Homo sapiens: one gene and its partners. The protein of the gene in region 1 interacts with the protein of each later gene in a pairwise test. Each region holds a gene or a part of one and is shown in the gene's direction. Other genes may lie near its edges.

Region 1 (3,500 bases):
CCTACAGGGGATATGTATTGAGTATTTGAAAGACTTCGGAAATAACTGTGATTGTTCCTTTACAAATGGATTTTAACTGCATGCTTTCATATGGCCTTGTTACTAGGTAATCAAATGTTCTGTGTTACTTCCCTGTATATTCTGGATTCAGATCTTTCTGAGTTTTATTTGTGGCTAGTATCTCCTAGTTGGTGATTATTTTTCACTCTTTGTGGTGTTTTGGTGAGCAGACATTATAAATTTTAATGCAGTTGAATTTATCATTTCTCATTATTTTTACAGACTCTTCCCTATCCTCATCTTAAAGATTTTCTTCCTAATCTAAAAGTTTTAAAGTTTTGTCTTTAATCCACTTTAATTTGATTTCTCTTCTATGGTAGGGACCAAATTTTATTTTTTCCACATAGGTTACTAATTGTCCCCGCACTGTTTATTGGAGCCTTTCCCCGCACTGATATGCAGTACCATATCTGACACATCAATTCTCTATATATGTTTGAGTCTGTTTCTGATGTCTCTAATCTAAATTAGTGTCACATTGTCATCTTTACTGTAGAAATGCTGTAGCTCTATAATAACTTAATATTTGTAGAGAAAGTGCCTAACTTTGTTTTCCCGCTTGGATCTTTTTTTTTTTTTTTTTTTTTTTTCAATTTGGCTGTTTGCCCTTTTAAAATATTTAGAATCAGCTTGTCAAATCTGATGAAGAATCCTTTTGTGGTTTATATTTGAATTGCGCTGAATGTGTGTGTTAGTTTAGGGGATAATTTATCATCTTATTCGTGAATATGATATATACCTCTGTTTAGCTCTTCTTCTGTATCTTTACATAAAACTTTGTATTTTCTTTGTGAAAAGATAATACATATTTTATAGGATTATTTCTTTGTACCATTTTTGTTGTTCTATTATAAATGGAATCCTTTTAAAATTTTAATTGTGACCAGCTTTGAAGAAGCATCTCTTATGACTTTTTCAGCTGATAAATTTTCCTGAAGATTATAGCAAAAGTACCAAATTTTGAGGGTATTAAAAAGCAGAAATTAATTGGGGTGTATCTTATCACATCTGTTTTTAGTAAGTGTGAAAAGGTCAATATTGTCCATTTATTTGTCTTTTCACTTAGAGATTGTGTGAGAGAACTAATATTCATAGACCCTGTTGACTCAGGTAGTTTTCAAAGTGTGTATGTGTTTAAGTGGTGTGTGTGACTTTTTTCTGAGACAGTGGTGAGAAAATTGACATTTTTACTCTTTAGAATAGTTCTTAGAAATGTATATTTAATATACTAGTTGAGGTCATTGTGTTCTATCAGGAAAAAAAATTGTTCTCTCTGCTTCCTTTTGTGTAATGTTCTTCTGTTTTTCTTTTTTTCACTTGACCAAATATCTAGCTTATTCTGTGTTTACTTCAAGTCGCATTTCCTTTCATGCCTTCCCAGACCATTTAATCCATAGTTATTTCCTCTTGTTAATTTCTAAATTCTTACAGATTCTACTTATAAACATAGAATGGCCTCCATATTGTATCATTAAATGCAGAGACCAAGGGCACAGTACAAAGGGTCCTATTTTAAAGATCTGTGTGTGTGTGTGTGTGTGTGTCTGTGTGTGTAAAAATTTTTGGAGGAATGCACTAAAAAATTTTTTTTATGATAGTTAACTTTTAAAACTGGGTCTGAAAGGTCTAAGATGGAAGGAAGAGTTTTACTTCATGTGCTTTTATACTATTTGAAAATTTTGCTATCTGCATGTATTACTATTTATTTTCAGGGTTATAGTGTTTATTAAGTATGTAACAGTAGGAGTTGGCTCAAAATTATCTGGAAAAATAAGAAGTAAACAAGATTGCCAAAATGTTGATGATAAGTGAAGCTAGATAATAGACCCATGGTGATTCATAACATTATTCTCTCCTTTTATGTATATTAGAATTTTTCACCATAAAATTTTAAAAATTAAACATTGATATATTCTAGCTATAATTTAGGTCTGAAATGGGCTTTGCAATTCGAAACACTTGTAAATGTATCAGGACACTAAAGATTCCTATTTTTTTATTGCTATATAATTCACCTACCACAAAATCATCCTTTAAAAAAGTATGTAATTTGGTGGTTTTTATTATATTCACAAGATTGTGCAGCCATCAGCAGTATCAAATTCCATATCACTTCCCAAAAAACCCACACTGATTATCAGTCATTGCCCCTCCTTCCCTATTCCCAGCCCCTGGCAACCATTATTGTGACATGTGTAACTACTTTATTTCTCTTTGTGGTTGAATAATATTCCACTCTATGGATTTACTACATTTTGTTTATCCGTTCATTAGTTGATGAATATTTGGGTTGTTTGTACTTTTTTGACTATGTATTCATTACTTGTTAAAGTTTAAATATGTAAGAAAAGACCTATGGTTTTTGTTTGTGTTTTAGGTGGGGGGAAATGATTCTATTTTTATTCTCAAAACCGTTTTTGAAAAACTTTACTGCTAATAAATTATGAGGTTTTGGAACATACACTGTACAGTTTCATTAAAAGTAAAATTCTTGTGTCATTTAAGTAGAAATTGTTTGTATTTTAGATAACATTTGGTCAGCCAGGCTTGGACATTCAGAGCAGAAGTATGGAATACGTACAGCGGCAAATATCCAAGGAATGTGGAAGCCTAAAGTCCCAAAATAGGGTAAGTAATGTTAGTTTATCTTGTGATATGGAATTTAACTAATTAATAGATAGGTAAAGTTTTCCAGTCTTTCTAATTCTCCATATAGTTGAATTGTACTAGAAAATTTTTCATTGTATAAATTTGCTGCCTATGTGCTTAAACGCTGTTAGTTAAAAACTCTGCAAACTTCTCATTTGAGTCTAAAAGATTGCCAGAGCTGCATTTATTAGATAGGACCAAAAGGAATTATATATTGTTAATTAAATAAACTGTATCTGTCACCCCACCTTTAGCTCAGACCTAGAATTTTCTTAGCCCTAATTCCATGTATCTAGGAAATAGAAGTTTGCCCCAAACTGAGTCAGATGCTTACTTGTAGTAGACTAGTCACTGTGTCCAGGGACTGGAGCTAAAGATACAAATTTGTCTACTTAGAAGCCTGCATTTATGGATGATGTAAGGGGTCAAAAGACTTAATTTTGTTCTTTGGCCTCAAAGAACCAACCTTCCCAGAAGGGTTGTGGAAGTAGGGGTATTTTACGTCATTGTTCAGAGACTTTTTGTGTACCCAAGCTACACACATGTGTGTCTTTGTATTAATTTGCTAGGACTCCCACAACAAAATATTACAGACTGGGTAGCTTCAACAACAGAAATTTATTTTCTCACAATTCTTAGAAGTTCAAGATCAAGGTTGTTGGTAGGTTTGGTTTCTTCTGAGGCCTTTCTTCTTGGCTTGCAGGTAGCTGCCCTCACATGGTCTTTCCTCACTTTGCCCTCACATGCTCTTTCCTCTGCCCGTACATCCCTGGTGTCTTTCTCTGTGTGTC
Region 2 (3,500 bases), on another chromosome or scaffold:
CCAGGCAGTGGCTGAACGCTAGGGTGTTAACAGGAATGAGAGGCGCAGTCGGCTGGGGCAGTGGTGGGAGCTCCAGGCCTCATCCTGACTCCAGATTCCATCGTTTCTTGCTTCTTTCTCTTCGGTGAACCTTTTGACCTGCAAGGGTAGCTGGGGGTTAACCTGCTACCCTCCAGGTTCAAATCCCGGTTCTCCTGTTTACTAACAGTGTAAGCCCAAGCAGATTTCTTGGCCTCTCTGTGCCTCAGTTTCTTCATCTAAAAATGGGGGAAAGAATAGGATCAGGCAGTTATCATAGGACAGAATAAATTAATATCCAGTCACACACCACACAATGATGAACCACGTACACAATGGTGCTGCCATAAAATTATTATTATTATTATTATTATTATTTTGAGATGAAGTCTCGCTCTGTCCCCCAGGCTGGAGTGCAGTGGTGCAATCTTGGCTCACTGCAACCTCTGCCTCCCGGGTTCAAGTGATTCTCCTGCCTCAGCCTCCTGAGTAGCTGGGACTACAGGCATGTGCCACCACACCCGGCTAGTTTTTGTATTTTTAGTAGAGACGGGGTTTCGCCATGTTGGCCAGGCTGGTCTCGAACTCCTGACCTCAAGTGATCTGCCACCTCGATCTCCCAAAATGCTGGGATTACAGGCGTGAGCCACTGCGCCTGGCCTCCCATAGAATTATAATACTGTATTTTTACTACACCTTTTCTTTCTTTCATGATTGTGTAGTGGCATGATCCTGGCTCACTGCAGCCTCAACCTCCCAGGACCGAGTGATCCTCTCACCTCAGCCTCCCAAGTAGCTGGGACCACAGGCATGCACCACCACACCTGGCTAGTTTTTAAATTTTTGTAGAGATGGGATCGTCTTATGTTGCCCAGGCTGGTCTTGAATTCCTGAGCTCAAGCAATTCTCTCACCTTGGCCTCCCAAAGTGCTGGGATTACAGGTGTGAGCCACCATGCTTAGCCTACTTTACGTTTTCTTTTCTTTTCTTTTCTTTGAGACAGAGTCTCGCTTTGTCGCCCAGGCTGGAGTGCAGTGGCGTGATCTCGGCTCACTGCAAGCTCCGCCTCCCGGGTTCACGCCATTCTCCTGCCTCAGCCTCCGTGTGTGTTACAGTGACCTACAGTATTTAGTACAGTCACATGTGGTCCAGATTTGTAGCCTAGGAGCAATGGGCTATGCCATATAGCCTAGGTTTGTAATAGCCTAGACTATTCAGGTTTGAGTTCACTCTATCACCTAATGGCACATTTCTCAGAGTGCATCCCCATGGCTAACTGACGCATGACTATAGTTGCGCTCTTATATTTAGTTCAGAATTCAGAACCTCTGCTTCCCTCCTGAGAGCCATCTCTGACTGTGCCAACTCAAAACAACTGCCCCCTATTTACCCACATCCCTGGACCTCCCCTCAGGGGAGTGTCTGAGTGGGCATAGGGTCTGTGCCCCCAGCTCCCTGCCCTCACCCTTGCCTTTCTCCCCACCCTCCTAGAAGTGAGTGAGTGTGGAACTGCAGGGCCCTGAACGGCCCAGGGCAGGGCATTGCTTTGCCTGACTTGCTGGGGGCCTTGGGACAGCCCCTTGCAGAGCAGGGAGACTTGGCTGGGAGATCTCCAACTTTCCTTCCCGCCCTCGCTTTTGGGGAGTCCCATGACTTGCTGTGTGACCTTCAGGGCGGGAGGAAGGGTTGAGAATCTGGGTGAGGCTCTCAAGGCTCAGGAAGGAAAGTACGATCGCTGCTTAAAAAAAAAAAATAGATTAGTTGCTGCTTGAAAAAACAAAAAAGCGTAAACCAACAAAAAAGCATAAACCAACAAAAAAAGAAAACCTGCTAGCCAAGAGCCCACCCCACCGGTGGGGGCAGCCTGGGCTCTTCGGGGCTGGGCAGGAGGGTGGGCGGAGGCAGGTGTGTCTGGATGACAGCCGTGTGTGGGAGAGACTTCATCTGGCATCCTCGCTGCCTCCTGTTCCAGCCCAGCCTTGGCTCTGATGCTGGCCCAGCCTTTCCCATGATCCCCTGGGGGGAAGAGAGCTGACCTTAGTGGGTGCCTCCTAGGTGCTGAGTACCTTCATTTACTCCTCCCAATTCTTCTCCAGGGAAGGTGCAATGCTTCCCATGTTAGGGTTGAGAAAGGCAGTTTCTGAGGAGTGAACTTATTTCTGGAGTCACACAGCTCCTAAGGGGAGGGGCTGCAGTTCAAACACTGGGGACTCCAGGGTCCACGCTTCCAGGGGGAGCCCGGGGAAAATGCTGGAGCTCCACGCTGCTGGCCCGGGGAGGCCGAGGCCCCAGCGCCCTGCGGAGAGCCTGCTAGGGCCTGGTGGGTTGGGTTATAGCACCCCTCTGTGGACACAGCTGGCCCTGTGATAACCTCAGCTGTGCACTGGAAAGGGTGGAAGGTAAGGAGGGGGCCTTCTGCCTCAGTTCGTCTCATTTCTCCTAACCTCTGTCCCAGCCTGACGCTGATAACCAGTTCCTGATCTCTGGGCCTGCAACCTCTTCCAAAAAGTCACCATTACCCCATTTCCCAGTAAGCCTCCATTAGCCTCAACCCCAGTCTCAACACTCGGCTTCAGCCTAGTTGTGACCCACAGCCTCGGTTGTGACCTCTCCTAATTCCAACTCCAAGTGCTCACCCCAGCCTCCCTCCCTCCCTCTGTCCCTCCCTCCCTGCCTCCCTCCCTCTTTTCTTTCCTGTCCTTTTTTTCCCTTTCCTTTTTGACAGGTTCTTGCTCTGTCACCCAGTCTGGAGTGCAGGGACGCAATCATGGCTCACTGCAGCCCCAAGCCTGGTCTCAAGCCATCCTCCCGCCTCAGCTTCCCACATAGCTGGACTACAGGTGCACATCACAATGCATAATGTGATAATAAAAAATGTGTTATCACAGTGTGATAATAAAAAAATATTTTATTTTATTTTATTTTATTTTGAGACCAAGTCTCACTTTGCTTCCCAGGCTAGTCTTGGACTCCTGAGTTCAAGTGGTCCTCCCGCTTTGGCCTCCCAAAGTGCTAGAATTACAGGTGTGAGCCACCATGCCTGGCCCAGGCTACTTGCATTACAACCCCAGTCTCAATTCCAAATCCACATCACTTTCTGCCCCAGTCACCTCCCTGGCCCCCTGTGACCTGTTGTTCCTGAGGAAGCAAGATGGGGTCAGATATAGGAGGACAAGAGTCCCTGGACCTCTCCTAAGGGTCTAGGGGGCCAGTCCAGCCCAGGGAGCCCTGGCCTTAAATGGACCTCCAGGACCCTTCAGGTGTGCTGTGGGCAGACCTGACTCAGGAGTGAGGAAGCCGCCTGCATGCCAGGCTTGTTGAAAAATTCACTGGGTTGCCAGTTAGGGAGGAATCCATTCTATTTTGTTAGGATGTGGTTGTACTGGAAACATGGGCTTTGTCAGCAAGACCGGAAATGCGTGGGTGAGGGCCTGGATCGTGACAGGAACTCATTTGGGAGGCGGCGGGGGGGCAGCCTGTCC
Region 3 (3,500 bases), on another chromosome or scaffold:
AATGGAGTGGGATATTTACAAGAATTGGGGGGATTTTGGTCAAACCCATTCTAAAAAAGTATAAACATAATTTCATGCCCTGACATCCTGGTGGAAATCCAGTGAACTTTGATGCTCAGCTTTGCCACTTAGTAGCTCTGTGATTTGTGGTCTTGGGCAGAGTCTCTCTTGAGTCTCCTTTGGTTTATCTGGACTAGGGGATAAAGGGAATGGACGATCTGACCCTTAGTGACTACAGCTTCTGACCATCATATCACATTTTCTTTTGTTCTTTTCTTTTTTTTTTTTGGTGGGTGGGGGGTGCGGGTATGGAGTTTCGCTCTTGTTGCCCAGGCTGGAGTGCAATGGCGCCATCTCGGCTCACTGCAACCTCCGCCTCCCGGGTTTAAGTGATTCCCCTGCCTCAGCCACCTGAGTAGCTGGGATTACAGGCGCGCGCCATCACGCCCGGCTAATTTTTGTATTTTTAGTACAAACGGGGTTTCATCATGTTGGCCAGGCTGTACTCGAACTCCTAACCCCAGGTGATCCACCAGCCTCGGCCTCCCAAACTGCTGGGATTACAGGCATGAACCACCGCGCCCAGCCCATATTTTACTTTTGCTTTGAATAGATGGCACCCTTTGTTCTGCACCTCAAATGACAGGTGTCACGGGCACCTTCAGTAGATTCCTGTTTTGTATGTAGCACTAAACCAGTGGTTTTTAGCTTTCCTTGATTCACAACCCCTGAGGATCAGGACCCTGTGCACAGAGATAAAATTTTGCATGGGCTCTTAGGAACTTTGCTGACTCCATGACTCCTCTGATACCACCTGGAGGTCCATGCATAGGAATCAGATCAAGAACCCCAGCTCTGTACCCTTGAAGGGAATGCCAGCAGACACAGTCAGATACTGGTAGCTGATGTGACCAAAAGGTGGTTGTTAGCCATGTTTGACAAAGATCAAGCATGCACATATGCAAATGGTGGGGGATAGGGGCAGTGAAGGACAGGTTCTCCAGGACTGTCCTGTTGTGGAGGAGCTCTTCCGGACGGCAGTCTTGGAAGCCACCTGAAATAACTTCATGAGTTGGCCTCATTTGATCCTTGGCTGTCCTGAACCAGTTCATATGATGGTGACTTCTATTTAGTTGATACCGTAAAAGGTGATGACTTTTTTTTTTTTTTGAGATAGAGTCTTGCTCTGCCACCCAGGCTGGAGTGCAGTGGCACGATTTTGGCTCGCTGCAACCTCTGCCTCCCAGCTTCAAGCGATTCTTGTGCCTCAGCCTTCCGAGTAGCTGGGACTACAGGCATGTGCCACCTCACCCGGCTAATTGTTTGTATTTTTTTAGTAGAGATGAGGTTTCGCCACGTTGCCTAGGCTGGTGTCGAACTCCTGACCTCATGTCATCCACCTGCCTCAGCCTCCCAAAGTGCTAGGATTACAGGTGTGAGCCACAGTGTCTGGCTAAGGTGATGACTTTGAATGACTCTTTAATACTGCTGTCAACTCTAGAGGTTGGAGTTACAACCTGAATTACATTAAAAGGCTATGTTGAGTAATAACGTTACGTTGAACTTAAGTGCTTTTGAACCTTTTGGTTCTGTAGATAATTAATTTTCTTTGAATTGACACCATATTTATTACTGAGTATCCGTGTAACAGATTATTCACTGTGGTCATCTAGGACTCCTTGACTGGAATGAAAGCTGTTTCTTTCTTTTTATATGAGAAAGAGAAATCTCTTTTGTTTCTTTAATTTAAAATTGATCTGTCCTATTAGTCATGCAGTGACTAATAGTGCTTGGTGCTTCACAACATTTTGTATAGTCCCCACTGTATTTCGTTTCGGAAAAACTGACTATGTTGGGTGTGGTGAGACATAGGAACCACTCCTATCATTCTCTAGAAAATTGTCAAAGGTGCTTTCTCTTTACTAGGTCCAACAGGAGTAAACCAGTACTAGCGGGAGCCGTGTACACTTTTCTTGTTCCTTCTTCCCTGTGGCTAATTCTGAGTTCTCTTATTACTCTACGTGGCATGGCTTCCTAGGTGCACAAAAATATGAGAACTGCATGTTGTAATACCTGGGCTTCCCACAGCCTTATGCTACTTAACAATAGAATCAAAGACTGTTGAGAATTGTAACACTTAGAAACCTTGGAGTCTAGTTTTTTTCACCTCACTGATGAGAAAACAGGCCTCCAGAGAGTCAGATGACTTCCCCAAGGTTACTCTACTAGTTATTGGTGGAACTGAGGCTGACACCTATCTCAGTCTCTCATCTGAGACTCCCTTTCCCAGTCCTGTCCCCGTTAGACCACTGGTCAAGTTTTCTTGATGATATATGTGAATTAAAAACCAGTCAGTCTCCTGATACTTTTGTGCTTCGAATGCTTTTCCTGGGTGTGTGTGTGTGTGTGTTTATAACTTCTTTATTCACTCTGACTCATAACTGATGTGCAACAAAAACTCCTCTGCATGCTAAACCACAGTTTAGAGAAACCACTTATTTTAAAAATGGCAGCCTGGTCTGTGCCATATAAATTTTGACCTCTGAATATTGAGTTGTAAAGTATTTATTATGAAACTGTGGGATGTTTATTTAAGCTTAAACTTGAAACCTAAAAGTGAAATTAAAATAATTTCATATCCCAGCCTTTGGATCTGATTTTGATCGTGGTCAGGATTTTGAAGTGTTTTTGTGAGTAATGTCAGTCTTAAAAGTAGTTGTCTTGAGGTGTAAAGATCATATGAACAAAATTAAGATCTAAATTATATTTAGGAAGTGAATGGATGAGGTAGAATTTGGTGTTTTCAAACAGTCATGATCATTTTAATGTACTTATAGAACCTCTATTCTGAAAGTGAGTTGTCCTTTTAAAAAAGTAGTCACCTTCAGAGTGTGTGTGTGCACCCACTGACTTCAGTCTTTCAAGAAGTCCTTGTTGGAATTTTCCTCAGCTAGATTTCAAGCCATGTCAGGACACCACTCTCATTATATTACCATAATTTTTTTTTCTTTTTTTTTTTAATTTTACTTTTTTTAAATTCCAGGATACATGTGCAGGACATGCCATAATTTTCTTAAAGTCAGATTCCAGCATCATCTACCTGTTGATAGCAAATATGACCCTGAGTGAATTTTTTTTTTTTTTTTTTTTTTGAGACAGAGTCTCGCCCTTGTGCCCAGGCTGGAGAGCAGTGGCGCGATCTTGGCTCACTGCAACCTCTGCCTCCTGGGTTCAAACAGTTCTTCTGCCTCAGCCTCCCAAGTAGCTGGGATTACAGGCACCCACCATTACACCTGGCCAATTTTTATATTTTTAGTAGAGACGGGGTTTCACCATGTTGGCCAGGCTAGTCTCGAACTCCTGACCTCAGGTGATCCACCTGCCTTGGCCTCCCAAAGTGCTGGGATTACAGGCGTGAACCACGTGCCCAGCCCCTTGAGTGAATTTTTAAAAACTGATATGTATAATTCACATTCCATAGCATGTATCCTTTTAAAGTG
Region 4 (3,500 bases), on another chromosome or scaffold:
AAAAATGTGAACTTGATTTTCTTTCTGTTTATAGTGTCATTACTTGTGTTGCTAGACAGGTTATTTTTAGGATCACATATTTCTTTGGATTCACATTTTAATCTTCTGTTTTCAGTGACAAGCTTGTACAAGGAATAAATATAAATCTGCCCTAAATTTAGGTTTCTTGGACCGATTAACTTGGATTGGTGAACAGTAATGATACCAAGTTTGATATCTTAACTCTCATGTTTATCTTAAAAGACAGAGAGTGGATTAGCAATTCTCAGTTCATAAGTGATATGGTCCCCAAAGTACAGATGTATATGTCAACGGAATACATGATTCACATTTTATCTGGCTCAGAATTTAGTCTCTGAACCCATCTACTATCAAGTAATGTTTATTTAAGAAATACCCACTTCTACTTCAATAAATCACTGTGCAAAAAGTCATACATTTACAAACTCAAAACCTACAGTCCAAACTGTCCAAATTTTTGCCATACCTATCATGGTACAAAACAAAACTAAGTTGAAATGAAGAGTACCATGAGTAAACAGGCTTGCAGTAGACTTAAACAAACAAACAAACAAACTGGACAACTGGGAAAGAATAGAGCATCTGGTCAACTGAGAAATGACAACCGCCTCTAACAGTTATGTGTTCTATAACCATACATCTGCTTATAATTGTTGTTTCTGCTGAGGAATATCTAAAATCCAAGGTGTATATGACAGTAAAGAAGTTCAGGTTTCTAAAACAGTTTTAGAAATTAAGCTTTGGACAGCATTAGGATATTTAAAAGTCTTGGGAATATTTAGTGTCCTCCTGTATTTTGTACCGATTAATAGATAGTCTCATAACAGAACATTCATTTTTTTTTTTTTGCCTTCTTTGTTTTAAGAGAAAAAGGGTTCCATGGGATCTCAAACTCTTGAGAGCTCTCTCTGTAGGTGGGAGTTCTGTCATGTGGGGTTTGTGCCCTTGTTATTTACAATGCAGAATGAACACGTGATATTTGACTCCACCTCTCCCCCACACCCAGACTGTGCCCACTTCCCCTCCTATGACATTTGGATCTTTCCATATTCAGGATTTATTGGGTGTTTTCAATCCCGGAATCTAATTTTCATTCTGATGTTATATTGCCAGATTGCTAGTTTTGAAACATGTATTTTTATACCAACAGCTTCACCTAAAATTTATCTGAGCAGGGGGAAACAGGATAGGTTGGGGAAACCTTTTCTACCCCACCTTTCCACCATCATTCCTGACAGCTCCGTCCTGCTATTTGTTTCAGATTGCAGCCAAGAATACACGGATTCTACAGGCATAGACTTACACGAGTTTCTGATTAACACATTAAAGAATAATTCCAGGTAAATTATTAAATGAGCCTCTTATTTTTAGAAGGATCAAATAGAATATTACAATCAAAGTTATTAATCCAACACTTCTAAGAAAGCCATTGTGAAATGCAGATACCTTCCCTGACGTCTTAAACTGTCTCCTGTATTTTTTTTCTACTAATCGTTTGCATGTTTACTTTTTATAGAGAGTCTTAGTAACTGGGTAGTTACCCAATTAATAAATTATACTTTAACAGTTCTGCTTTTCAGATCACAAAGAGATACTGGCTAAGGTGGAAAAATAGCAAATAAAAATTATTGTTGTCAAATAAGCCAATTATGTTTTAATGCAGCTATGTATTCATTTACAGTCAATACTTGGCCTTCGTTTTGTTCCAGTTTCCTATTTATTTGAAATATACTATTTATTTGATGGGTTTTTTGATCCTAGTACTTTGCATGCCATAATTAACATTAAGACTACAAAATTTAGATATTTCAATATACTTAACAAATAAGATAAGGAATACTCTTAAACAATGAAATAAATTGTAATGAATGAAATGAAATAATATGTAAATGGTCAGCATATTCCAAAGAAGAGTTAGGTATAAGTTTGTAGCAGCATACATTTAAGTAATCTTTTCCATACATTTAATTAATTCTTTAGGTTTTTGGAAGTGGAACATACATAAAACCTTTTAAATTTAACATTTATTTTGCAGGGACAGGATGATACTTTTGAAAATGGAGCAGGAAATTATTGATTTCATTGCTGACAACAAGTATGTTAAACTTCAATGCTGGTTAATTTGATCATGTATCCTAGTTTGGTATTGGAGTTAAATTGTCCATTCTGGAAAGACTTAGGGATAGACAAAACATTGTTTAATATGTTCCTTGATTTGTTAAATGGAGACATTATTGGAGTTAGGACTATACGCTGATGAGAATTGTTGCTTGGACCATGTGTGCTTCTGCTTGTTAAATTCCTGACAAAATGGCTATAAACAGTGGGCCACTGATTAGCATAGAGTAGCTGTAACAAGAAGAGACCCTTTTCATTTTTATTATAGTTTTTTAATGGGCTCCAGCTGGCTGCAGTCAGTTATGCCTGGAAATAATTGTGCTGCTTCAGTATAAACCGTGTAATGACACATCTCCATATAGACATCTGCAATCACGTATTATGTCACATCATTTGTCCTGTGCCTGGCCCCGTTGATAAGGTATCATGGACTAAAATACAATACTGTCCAACAGACATTACATTCTCTTTGGCAAGAGAAATGTGCAACTATGAAACAAAGATGTTTATTGTGGCTTAATCAATAAATCTATAATAAGTAGAAAATTTTTCTAGAAATTAGGACATTAAGTGATGCCAGAAATGCAATAGGCTTAGTGGTTTAGATGAAGAAGAAATAGTTTTGTGTGTATACTTGTAAAAAGGTATTATGGGCAAAAAATGAAAATGCTGATTCCACTTTTTCTTGAATTATGTTCTAGTAATCATTATAAAAAGTTCCCTCAGATGTCATCGTATCAGAGGATGCTTGTCCATCGAGTGGCAGCTTATTTTGGATTGGATCACAATGTGGATCAAACAGGAAAATCTGTTATCATCAACAAGACCAGCAGCACCAGAATGTAAGCCCCATCACTGTACTTATTTAGCATTTTCTTTTTCTCCTATGGATTCATTTATAAGATCACAGTATAAAATTCACAGTACATGACATTTAAAATGTGCAGTGTTATTTATCTCTTGCTCTTATCAGAAGTAGTGTGGCATTTATCTGTAGAAGATTATCTGAGAACCAAGAAAGTTTATAAAATTCAGACAATAAAGTGGATTTATTTCCTGCTCTTTTACATAGCTCCTGAAACATAATTTTCTTTCTTCCATCAGTACTCTATGAAATTACATACAAAGCTGTGAAAAATTTTGTCAAAATATAACTTAAATTAAAAACAATAGATATTTTTAAATGACCATGACATACACAGAATAATTGTTATTTTCTTTCTTCTTTCTTCTGCTTTTTTAGACATCTATCTTATTGTAGTTTCTGGAGTAATAAAAAGCTCCGAACCTAGAGGCAGAAATCCTGCCTCTAAAACCCAATTCTACTTACTAGTTGTGTGACTTGGAGCAAGTCATTTAAA
Region 5 (3,500 bases), on another chromosome or scaffold:
TTATCCAGCTTTAAAGCCCAGCCCTGCTCCCCTCTTCCAAACCACTTTTTCCTCGATGGTTATTATCTCAGACCTTCTTAACCGTGGCTCTCCCCTCCTTCAGAATATCCTCCTTGTGGAACCCTGCCCAGTTCTAAGATCTTTGTATTCCTTTGGCACTTGTAGACTCATGCTATCTGAATCTGCACCTATTCATAGATTTATTTATACAAGCAGTTTTGAAGTAATCATGCTTGCATTTCTTATTTCATGAGTGAGGTCTTGGGGAGAAGGAACAGGAGCTCTGCTTGTCAAGTCTCCTCCCCTCCCTATCCGCTACTATTTACTGCATGCAGTAGATAACTGGTGACATGGACTGAGCACATTTGAGGTGTTCATTCCGTGGGCATCAGCAGACCCTCAGAGGTGCATTAGCTAACTATAGAACCTCCTCTTAATTTCTCTATAAAGGGGGCTGTTTGCCACACTTTGGGGCTCAAAACCTCACCAAGAAATGCTTTAGAAAATGGGGCTTGCCGCCGGGCGTGGTGGCTTACACCTGAAATCCCAGCACTTTGGGAGGCCGAGGCAGGCGGATCACCTGAGGTCAGGAGTTCGAGACCAGCCTGGCCCATATGGCAAAACCCCATCTCTACTGAAAATACAAAAATTAGCTGGGCGTGGTGGTGCACACCTGTGGTCCCAGCTACTCAGGAGGCTGAGGCAGGAGAATTGCTTGAACCAGAAGGCTGAGGTTGCAGTGAGCTGAGATCGCGCCACTGCACTCCAGCCTGGGTGACAGAGCAAGACTCCATCTCAAAAAAAGAAAAAAGAAAAAGAAAATGGGGCCTGCCCATTAAATGGACCAACACACAACACTTGATAAACATCAGGGTGAAAGTACAGGAAGTGACTCACCAAGAAGCCTTGAATGGAAAAGTGTAGCAGATGGTTGCTAAAAGAAATCTGACAAAGCCTGGGGAACTCTGTAGGGTGCAGAGACTTTGACAATGTGTATGAGAGACATTCTCTAGGTATCATTACTTTAGCTCATGTTTTGTTGCATTTTAGTCTTCTCAGCAGGAAGACTGTTTCCAAGAAAAATGTATTATTTATTGACCAGGCGCGGTGGCTCATGCCTGTAATCCCAGTACTTTGGGAGGCCGAGGCAGGCAGATCACGAGGTCAAGAGATCGAGACCATCCTGGCCAACATGGTGAAATCCTGTCTCTACTAAAAATACAAAAATTAGCTGGGCGTGGTGACATGCACCAGTAGTCCCAGCTACTCAAGAGGCTGAGGCAGGAGAATTGCTTGAACCTGGGAGGCAGAGCTTGCAGTGAGCCGAGATCATGCAACTGCACTCTAGTCTGGCAACAGAGCAAGACTCTTTGTCTCAAAAAAAATTTTTTTATTTATTTTACAAACACTTATGTGGTAGTTACCATATATGCCACATATTTATGAGATAGGTACTATTATTATTCCCATTTTACAGATGGGAAAACCAAAGCCCAGAGAGGTTAAATAACTTACACAAGGTCACACTGCCTTGTAAGTGGTAGAGGCAGGACTCAACCCGAGGCAGTCTGGCACCAAAATCCACATCCTCACCCATACTGCAATATTCCCTCGAGGATGTGATACATGAAATGTATCTCTAGTGTTCAAATAAGTAAGGCCAATGCCAGTGAAAAACAAGTCTTTTTTTTTTCTTTGAAACAGGGTCTCGCTCTGTCGCCCAGGCTGAATGCAGTGGTGTGATCAATCATGGCTCAATGCAGCCTCGACCTTCTGGGCTCAAGTGATCCTCCTTGAGTAGCTGGGACTACAGGTGTGAACCACCGTGCCCTGCTGAAAAAGGATTTTTTTTTTTTTTGAGCCAGAATCTTGCTCTGTCGCCCAGGCTGGAGTGCAAGTAGAACAATCTCGGCTCACTGCAACCTCCACCTCCCAGGTTCAAGCAATTCGCCTGCTCAGCCTCCCGAGTAGCTGGGACTACAGGTGCGCCACCATGCCCAGTTAATTTTTGTATTTTTAGTAGAGACCGGGTTTCACTGTGTTGCCCAGGCTGGTCTCAAACTCTTGAGCTCAGGCAATCCGTCTGCCTCGGCCTCCTAAAGTGCTGGGATTATAGGGATAAGCCACCGCATCCAGCCTTTTTTCTTTTTCTTTTTTTTTTTTTGAGATGGAGTTTCGCTCTGTCATCCAGGCTGGAGTGCAGTGGCGTGATCTCGGCTTACTGCAACCTCCGCCTCCCAGATTCAAGCAATTCTCCTGCCTCAGCCTCCTAAGTAGCTGGAATTACAGGAGTGCACCACCACGCCCAGCTAATTTTTGTATTTTCAGTGAGACAGGGTTTTGCCATGTCGGCCAGGCTGGTCTCAAACTCCTGAACTCAGGTGATCCCCCTGCCTCGGCCTCCCAAAATACTGGGATTACAGGCATGAACCGCCGTGCCTTGCTGAAAAACGATTCTTGATAAACAAAAATAAGAGTTGCCTCTATTTCTAGAAATGTGGAGCCCTCAAGAATTTTAATGACAGAATTGGCAGGTGATGGTGTCTGGTGCCTGTAATCCCAGCACTTTGGGAGGGCGAGGCGGGTGGATTGCTTGAGTCCAGGAGTTCGAGACCAGCCTGGGCAACATGGTGAAATCCTGTCACAACTGAAAATATAAGAATTAGCTACTTGTGATGGTATGCACCTGTAGTCCCAGCTACTAGGGAGGCTGAAGTAGGAGGATGGCTTGCACCCGGGAGGTCGAGGCTGCAGTGAGCTGTGATTGTGCCACTGCACTCCAGTCTGGGTGATAGAACAAGACCCTGTCTCAAAGAAAAAAAACAAGAATACCAGAATTATTATTTAATTCAGCACCTCTTGTGTGCCAGACACAGCGCTAAGTGCCCTGCATACTTTGTCATTGAACTATACCAACAATTTTCTGAGAAGGGTTCAGATATGATTCCCATTTCACAGATGAGGCTTATAGAGGGGTTAAGACATTTGCTCAAGGTTACACAGCAAAGCCTTGTAGACCTTTTTTTTTTTTTTGACGGAATCTCGCTCTATCGCCCAGGCTGGAGTGCAGTAGTGCAATCTTGGGTCACTGCAACCTCTGCCTCCCGTGTTCAAGCAATTCTCCTGCCTCAGCCTCCCAAGTAGCTGGGATTACAGGCACCTGCCACCACGCCCGGCTAGTTTTTGTGTTTTTAGTACAGACGGGGTTTCGCCATGTTGGCCAGGCTCTTCTCGAACTCCTGACTTCAGGTGATCCGCCCGCCTCAGCCTCCGAAAGTGCTGGGATTACAGGCGTGAGCCACTGTGCCCGGCCTCAGTAAACTTCTTAGTGAGTTCCTAATAGTTCCCTAAGGTGAGGAGAGAAGAAAGTTCCTGCTGCTCCTGCTGCTTGCGTCAGCCTCCCTTCTTCCTCCCCAGGGCTGCAAGTGGAATTCATCAACCCCATCTTCGAGTTCTCCAGGGCCATGAATGAGCTGCAACTCAATGATGCCGAGTTTGCC
Region 6 (3,500 bases), on another chromosome or scaffold:
GATGGCCCCTTTCATGCTTGTCTCCAAATTTGAGTAAAAAATGTAGACACACACACACACACACACACACACACACACACACGTATCTTCAAGGGACCAGTTTTTTCACTGCAGTCTTTTGTTTTACAGCTGTGGAAACTGAGGCCCAAGGTCATGTGGGTTAGGACTGGGATCCAGGACTCAAAGTGTTTCTTATAAAATTCTGGTGCTCCTTAGGGTTGAGGGTGGTGGGTGAGTGCTGGACAGGGGGAGGGGAGTGGACAGGACTGAGGTCGGATGCCTGTGTTTCAGCCCGGGCAGTGAGTGTGGATGGCTTGGCAGGTGAGCCTGCTGGAGCTGGAGGACTGGCTTCAGTGTCCCATCTGCCTGGAGGTCTTCAAGGAGTCCCTAATGCTACAGTGCGGCCACTCCTACTGCAAGGGCTGCCTGGTTTCCCTGTCCTACCACCTGGACACCAAGGTGCGCTGCCCCATGTGCTGGCAGGTGGTGGACGGCAGCAGCTCCTTGCCCAACGTCTCCCTGGCCTGGGTGATCGAAGCCCTGAGGCTCCCTGGGGACCCGGAGCCCAAGGTCTGCGTGCACCACCGGAACCCGCTCAGCCTTTTCTGCGAGAAGGACCAGGAGCTCATCTGTGGCCTCTGCGGTCTGCTGGGCTCCCACCAACACCACCCGGTCACGCCCGTCTCCACCGTCTGCAGCCGCATGAAGGTGGGGAGTGAGGGTGCAGGCGGGGCGGCGGGGCCCGCGGGGACTGGATCCTGTGCTCTCTGGCGCTATCAACTGGCACCAAAACGGATCCAGCTATCCTCGATTTCCCTGCAGCCCTGCCCTGGCGCATTCATTCCTTAGTGTTTGAGCGGCAGCTAAACCCAGGTGCTGGGGATTGAAGCTACACGCACAGGATGGGAGCTCCCTGGTGTCACGTGCTCACCCCTTCCTGTTTTTTGTTTGCAGTTCTGGTTTGTTTCTTTTTCTTTTTTTCTTTCTCTCTCTCCCGCCCCCTTCCCTTCCTCTCTCTCTCTCTCCCCCTCCCTCGCCCGCCCCCCCTTTCTTTTTCTTCTTTCTTTTTGGAGACAGCGTCTCACTCTGTTGCCCAGGCTGGAGTGCAGTGGTGTGATCATGGCTCACTGCAGCCTCCAACTCCTAGGCTCAAGCAATCCACCCACCTCAGCCTCCCGAGCAGCTGGGACTACAGGTGCACACCACCATGCCCAGCTCATTTTTTATATTTTGTAGAAATGGGGTCTGGTTATGTTGCCCAGGCTGGTGTTGAATTCCTTGGCCTCCAACGATCTTCCTGCCTGGGCCTCCCAAAGTGCTGGAATTATAGGCATGCACCACTGCCCTACGCCCCTTGTTTGTGTCTGGACACTCCCCTGTTTGCACTCTCTGGTGCATGAGAGTGGGGACTTCATTTTGTCCCCTGGTGTATTTCAGTGCCTGGAGCCATGCCTGGCACATTGTAAATGTCCAAAATGCTGAATCAGTGAATTCCTGCCTTTATAGGCCATCACCAAACCTAGCAGATCATTCTTTAAGATGAGTAATAATAATACCTGACTGGGTGTTATATATATAAAACACCTGTTATAAAACACGTGACTGGGTGGCTTATGCCTATAATAACAGCACTTTGGGAGGCCGAGGTGGGTGGATCACTTGAGTCCAGGAGTTTGAGACCAGCCTGGGCAACATAGTGAGACCCTGCCTCTACAAAAGTTTCAAAATTAGCCTGGTTGGCCAGGCGCAGTGGCCACTCCTGTAATCCCAGCATAAAGCTGGAGGGAGCATGGGTGGGGGCGAGATAGGGCCAGCGAGGTAAGCTGCGGCTGGGGCATGGAGAGGCCAGTGTGACCCGGGAATGGATTTGGAGTTTATTCACAGGATGAGGGAGAAAGGCGGGGGCTGGAGTGTTTTAAGCCAGTGATGACATGCTCAGATCTCTCTGGCAGAGGGGAGCTTTGAGGGTGAGGCAAAAGGACAGTGAGAGATGAAGGTGCCAGGACCTAAGTTGGTGGGAACTGGGACAAAGGCCTGGGGCAGACCAAAGACAAATTTCAAACAGAAAAAAACCCTGACAACTGTGTGTGGCAAGGAGGGTGAGGGATGGGGAGGTTGACTCCAGCTCTGTAATTCCCCCTTGCACAGAGGAAGTGATCGCAGGGGAGGATCCGGCGTGGGCAGGTGGAGCGGGAGGTGCCTGGGGATGTGCAGTCGGGTTGAGGGGTGTGCAGACCAGGACAGCGGTGGGGCTCAGGGCAAGAGGTGTGGAGGGTCCTTCCTCTTGGTGGTCACTGAAGTCCCCTTTGGTGGAGAAGACCAACCCAGGAGAGTCTACATAGTGATAAGGGAAGACACTGATGATGACCCCAAGGGGTACCAGGCTTAAAATCTGGATTGAGAGAGAGAGAGCCCTGAAAAAGGAATAGAAAGAATCCTCAGAGCAGGAACACCGGCTGAGTGTGGCCTCCCGGAAATCAGAGAGACAGACTGAAGGAGGAGATCACGTGTGTGAAATGTCTCTGAGGACTGAAAAGTGTTAAATGTAGCAGTAAGAACTGATTATCTTGGCAAGAGCAGGTTTAGGGGAGTATGGAAGGTGGAAGCCAACTGCAGGTGAGGAAGCCGAGTTTATGTTTTATTAGTTGATGGGAAGGAGGGAGGGAACAGGCTGGGAGATTGTCTGTCCTTTGTAGTTAGGATCCAGCAGCTCAGCTTGGGTCCCTGTTTTAGATTTGGGCTTAATTTTTTTTTTTTTGGTAGAGACAGGGTCTCACTATTTTGTCCAGGCTGGACTCAAACTCCTGGCCTCAAGTGATCCTCCCGTCTCGGCCTCCCAAAGTGCTGGGATTCCAGGCATGAGCCACTGTTCCCGGCCAGATTTGGGTTTTGATGATCCCGAGGCTCTTCTCTGTTGCAACACAGAATACAACTAAATTGCACTCCTTTATTGCCCTCTTTAAGGTGTTCCCGTTGCCTCCTGTTTATTGAGATCTTGAGATGCTCGATTGATGGGTGCATTGATTTGCATAACTTAGTTCTTCTCACGGGGAAGGAATGAGTCCCGTCTGTCTGCCTGGGGAGGGTGACATTGGAATGCTGTTCTTAGGCCTCTGTGAGATGTTCTGATGCCTCATTCTCCAGAGCAAGGACTCTGTCCGTTTATGCCAGCAAGTGCTTGATTCTTTACCCAACTCCCTTCCTGAAAGCCCCTTGCAGCTCTCTGGTGCTTGGGCACGATCCAAGCCAAAAATTCTGTACATTGCATGGGTATAAACCGACGGGGGCTCTGGTCAAGTCATGGAGTAGATGGTGGTCCAGGAGTCCTGGTTGGCACCCCCAAGGCTAGGTCAGATTTGGGGCCCGGGCAGTCCAGGAGAAGTGCATTTATGTCAGCTTGGGGAGGTCGCAAATCCGTGCTGTGTCCAAGCCCACCAGGAATGGATTCAGGTGTTTATAGGTGTGGGGATTCACCAGGTTAAACCCAGGCCCGTGTGAGC
Region 7 (3,500 bases), on another chromosome or scaffold:
CCCCTTGAGATAGGGCCTCTGCTCCCCAGTTTGCCCTGAACCAGTCTTTTAGTAGGGAGATGACTCCTTACCATTACACATGGCCAGCTTCCCTCAGGCTACCTGCCTGACCTTTGAAGGCAAAAGGAGACCTTCACTTCTTGGTGTCTGCCCTCTAGACAGGATGAAACTAAATGTGGATCCAACTTGCGGGGCTGGAGGGCTGAAGTGTCCTCCACTCTGATACAGGTACATGCCAGATTATGCCCATGATCCCAAGAAAGTTCCAGTCCTTCTCATCTGAAGACTGCTCTTGTTGATTTTATAATTAACAAAGCCTCTCTATGATTTTTTCTTTGGAGTGAAAGATCTCAGTTTACCCCATTGTTTGATTTTGAAGCCTTTTATCTTTTTGTCTTTCTGCAGGTAATTAAATGTCGTAATGAGATCATGCACTCTTCAGAGATGAAAGTATCTTCTACGTGGCTTCGAGATTTTCAGATGAAGATCCAAAATTTTCTGAATGAATTCAAGAACATCCCAGAGATTGTGGCAGTATACTCCAGAATAGAACAGGTAAAAATCATGTTTAATAGTTCTGGCATACAGAATGAAGAGAGAGAAAACAACAACAGCCACACATTTAGAATTTGAAGTTTATTAGATTTAACCTAAGTGTTAGAATGTAAGCAGGGGAAAGAATGCCAATATGAAATCTGTAATTATGCTGGGCTGAGAAGCTTTTCTGTGGTCACAGTGCACTATTAATATGGATCCAGTTCATTGTGTTTAATTATAAATTATTTGAGTAATTCAGTGGAATGCCTTCTTCATGAAATCAGTTCATATATTTGTGTGGCAATCCCTCAGCTGTTGACGTCTGACTGGGCTGTTCACATCCCCGAGGAAGATCAGCGAGATGGGTGTGAATGTGAAATGGGAACTTACCTGAGTGAGAGCCAAGTCAATGAAATAGAAATGCAGTTACTAAAGGAGAAACTTCAAGAGATATATCTTCAAGCAGAAGAACAAGAGGTGTTGCCTGAAGAGGTAAAAGAAAAGTGTTATAGGCTCTGTGTGAGTTAACAACACAAAGAAAGATTCTGGGGAGGAAGAGTAGCTCATCTTAACAAATAATTAATTGTGTTTTTGATTTATAAGTTAAATAATTTCCAGAAGTGTGAATATGCTTTTGGCACAGAGTAATATTACCTCTTAACAAATATTTTCACTTTCACATCAGCAAACATTTGAATGCCTAATCTGTGCCACAAAGTGGAAAAATGTGATAAAGGCTACAATAGAATTCTGAAAAAAATGCTCTAGACATTCTCTGCTGGTCAGGTGGATTGCCAAAAAAGATTTTGCCAAGAAGATGCTGTTGAGCTGTGGCTCACAGAATCAAATAAGAGTCTGACAAATTGGCAAGAGAAAAAGATTCTTCTTGGCAGAGGGCACAGTACTTGCAAAAGCAGGAAAGGATAGTCTGAGCCTGGGCAAGAACAGGTGAGCACACGAGCTATGGCCAGGTTTGTGGATGGTAAAGTGGGCTGGAGCCACATGCCAAAAGGTTTTCTAGGCCATGCCACGGGGTTTGGGCTTCATTCCCAAAAAGCAGTCAAGAAAGGGAGATAGGATCAGATATAGCTTTTAGAAAGTTAACTCTTGTGGTAGTTGGAGGTTGGATGAGTGGCTAGCAATTACCCAGAAGGCTCTTGCAGTCGTGTGAAGGTGAGAGAGAACAGAAACTAGGGGCTGTGGAGGAACTGGATTCTGGAGGCAGTGCCTGAGCAGAACCGATGGATATTGGTGGCCAGGGAGATTACTTGGAGCATGGCATGGGGCTGGAAAAGGGTGGAGAAGGTGGGGAGAGGAATGTTTAAAGGATTATCAATGTTTCTAGTTTAGGACCTGCAGACTAATGATGGTCTAAACTCCCAAGTACAGGAGAAACAAATCTCCTTTGTCACATGCAAGGTATAAAAGAAATTAACAGTAGTAGAATTATATTCCAGTAAGGTTCAGAAATATTTCAGCACTGGCTGGATTAGACTTCTAGATCACCAGGAGATATTGGAAAAATCATTTCACCTCTCCATTCCTCCTTGTCCAAGGAAAGTAGTTTTGCTGGTTACCTCATTAAACATAGGGAGAGTTTATTAAATGCAAATTCACGGAGCTGTGCTCCTTGCAGATAACTATGCCTGTATTAACCATTCCAGCTTTGATCCAGGTGCTTTATTCAGCATGGTGAGCCCCTTTAGCACAAGGGCTTGGTACCCCTGGTTTTTTGGGTGTGCCCACCATGGTACACCATAGGTATTTAAAATGATGTATTAGAATGTTTATCTTCTCTTTTCTAAATCCATGTGTTTGAGTTCCTCTGTCTTTATTTTATAATGCCATTAGAGCCCCAGTTTTCTTTCTGCTGCTGTTTTCAGAAGCTAGAGCCAGGATTTTGTGTCAGTTGAGAGCTGGAAGGGAACCTGGCAGTCATCTTATATCCCCTGCTTTGCATGTGAGGCAAGGGCCCCAAGGAGCTTGCACTGGGTCTGAGGGCTGGCCCGCAGGTCTCCCCCTTCTGATCCTGTGGCTTCCCGCCTGCTGTGCTGCAGATCTTATATAATGAGGAGCTGGCAGCTGTACGTTTTGAACCCCCATTATCTGTTTTACAGAAAGGAAATAGGGATTAATTGGCTTGTCTTCTGGGTGGAGTCTCTAGGTGGAGTTGATAAATTCTCATTTTTCATGCTTTCTCTTCAGCAGACCATGGCATTTCTCATAATATTTCAGTTGGTCAAAATGTGAGGATTGATTGGCATGTTACCTCAAAAAAGTTGGAGGTCAGGTTTCCACATATATGAAATTTGACGTCTTCAGAAAGTTCAGTACCCTATATGATTTTCCATCTTCTTTAGGGTTAGTTGCCAAAGTCAGAGGATTTGTTAGGACCAGATTTCAATGAATGTAAAATGCTGTCAATTGTAAAACATACCATTATTTCAGTTACTTCTAAGAAAGAAAAAATAATGCTGCCAGTTTATTACAAGACACTATCAATGGTAAGATGCATTCTCATTTGAGACGTTACAATAGGAAAAAGTGTGCATCCCGGGATCAGGAAATACAGTGATTATATTATGACCCCAGGACTTTTGTTATAAATGTTATCAAGACCTGTTTCTTGTTTTTGTTAAAACAGTAGGGGTGAAGGCGAGGTGCAGTGGCTCTTGCCTGTAATCCCGGCACTTTCAGAGGCCAAGGTGAGAGGATCACTTGAGCCCAGGAGTTTGGGACCAGCCTGGGCAATGTAGGGAGACCCCATCTCTTAAACAGACCAACCAGCCAAAAAATGTAGGGGTAGGGTTAGAAAGCTAAGTTGAGAAAAATGATTGATGGTGGTAATTCAGTGTGACAGCTCCTGCAAACACATCATGGAGTGCCACAGAGAGCTCACCATCTCCACAATTTTCTATTCGTTTGGTGACCCTTAAAGGTATAGCACATTAGAAAAAGTGGGC

What was found.
Region 2: the proteins of SPRED1 (region 1) and MICOS10-NBL1 interact in binary tests that used the Homo sapiens proteins (3 or more experiments, as listed by UniProt).
Region 3: the proteins of SPRED1 (region 1) and PPTC7 interact in binary tests that used the Homo sapiens proteins (3 or more experiments, as listed by UniProt).
Region 4: the proteins of SPRED1 (region 1) and ARPP21 interact in binary tests that used the Homo sapiens proteins (3 or more experiments, as listed by UniProt).
Region 5: the proteins of SPRED1 (region 1) and NR1H3 interact in binary tests that used the Homo sapiens proteins (3 or more experiments, as listed by UniProt).
Region 6: the proteins of SPRED1 (region 1) and TRIM74 interact in binary tests that used the Homo sapiens proteins (3 or more experiments, as listed by UniProt).
Region 7: the proteins of SPRED1 (region 1) and CXorf38 interact in binary tests that used the Homo sapiens proteins (3 or more experiments, as listed by UniProt).

The regions. Positions count from the first base shown.
Region 1 is NC_000015.10:38,346,836-38,350,335, forward strand, and holds part of SPRED1 (sprouty-related, EVH1 domain-containing protein 1), read left to right. Parts: intron 1-2,586; coding exon 2,587-2,688; intron 2,689-3,500. UniProt on the Homo sapiens protein: Tyrosine kinase substrate that inhibits growth-factor-mediated activation of MAP kinase. Negatively regulates hematopoiesis of bone marrow.
Region 2 is NC_000001.11:19,648,979-19,652,478, forward strand, and holds part of MICOS10-NBL1 (neuroblastoma suppressor of tumorigenicity 1 isoform a precursor), read left to right. Parts: intron 1-3,500. UniProt on the Homo sapiens protein: Possible candidate as a tumor suppressor gene of neuroblastoma. May play an important role in preventing cells from entering the final stage (G1/S) of the transformation process.
Region 3 is NC_000012.12:110,576,819-110,580,318, reverse strand, and holds part of PPTC7 (protein phosphatase PTC7 homolog), read left to right. Parts: intron 1-3,500. UniProt on the Homo sapiens protein: Protein phosphatase that plays an essential role in mitochondrial metabolism and biogenesis. Positively regulates biosynthesis of the ubiquinone, coenzyme Q. Dephosphorylates the ubiquinone biosynthesis protein COQ7 which is likely to lead to its activation.
Region 4 is NC_000003.12:35,688,025-35,691,524, forward strand, and holds part of ARPP21 (cAMP-regulated phosphoprotein 21), read left to right. Parts: intron 1-1,282; coding exon 1,283-1,361; intron 1,362-2,056; coding exon 2,057-2,116; intron 2,117-2,840; coding exon 2,841-2,981; intron 2,982-3,500. UniProt on the Homo sapiens protein: Isoform 2 may act as a competitive inhibitor of calmodulin-dependent enzymes such as calcineurin in neurons.
Region 5 is NC_000011.10:47,264,496-47,267,995, forward strand, and holds part of NR1H3 (oxysterols receptor LXR-alpha), read left to right. Parts: intron 1-3,417; coding exon 3,418-3,500. UniProt on the Homo sapiens protein: Nuclear receptor that exhibits a ligand-dependent transcriptional activation activity.
Region 6 is NC_000007.14:72,962,967-72,966,466, reverse strand, and holds part of TRIM74 (tripartite motif-containing protein 74), read left to right. Parts: intron 1-291; 5' UTR 292-309; coding exon 310-708; intron 709-3,500.
Region 7 is NC_000023.11:40,634,062-40,637,561, reverse strand, and holds part of CXorf38 (uncharacterized protein CXorf38), read left to right. Parts: intron 1-405; coding exon 406-555; intron 556-849; coding exon 850-1,029; intron 1,030-3,500.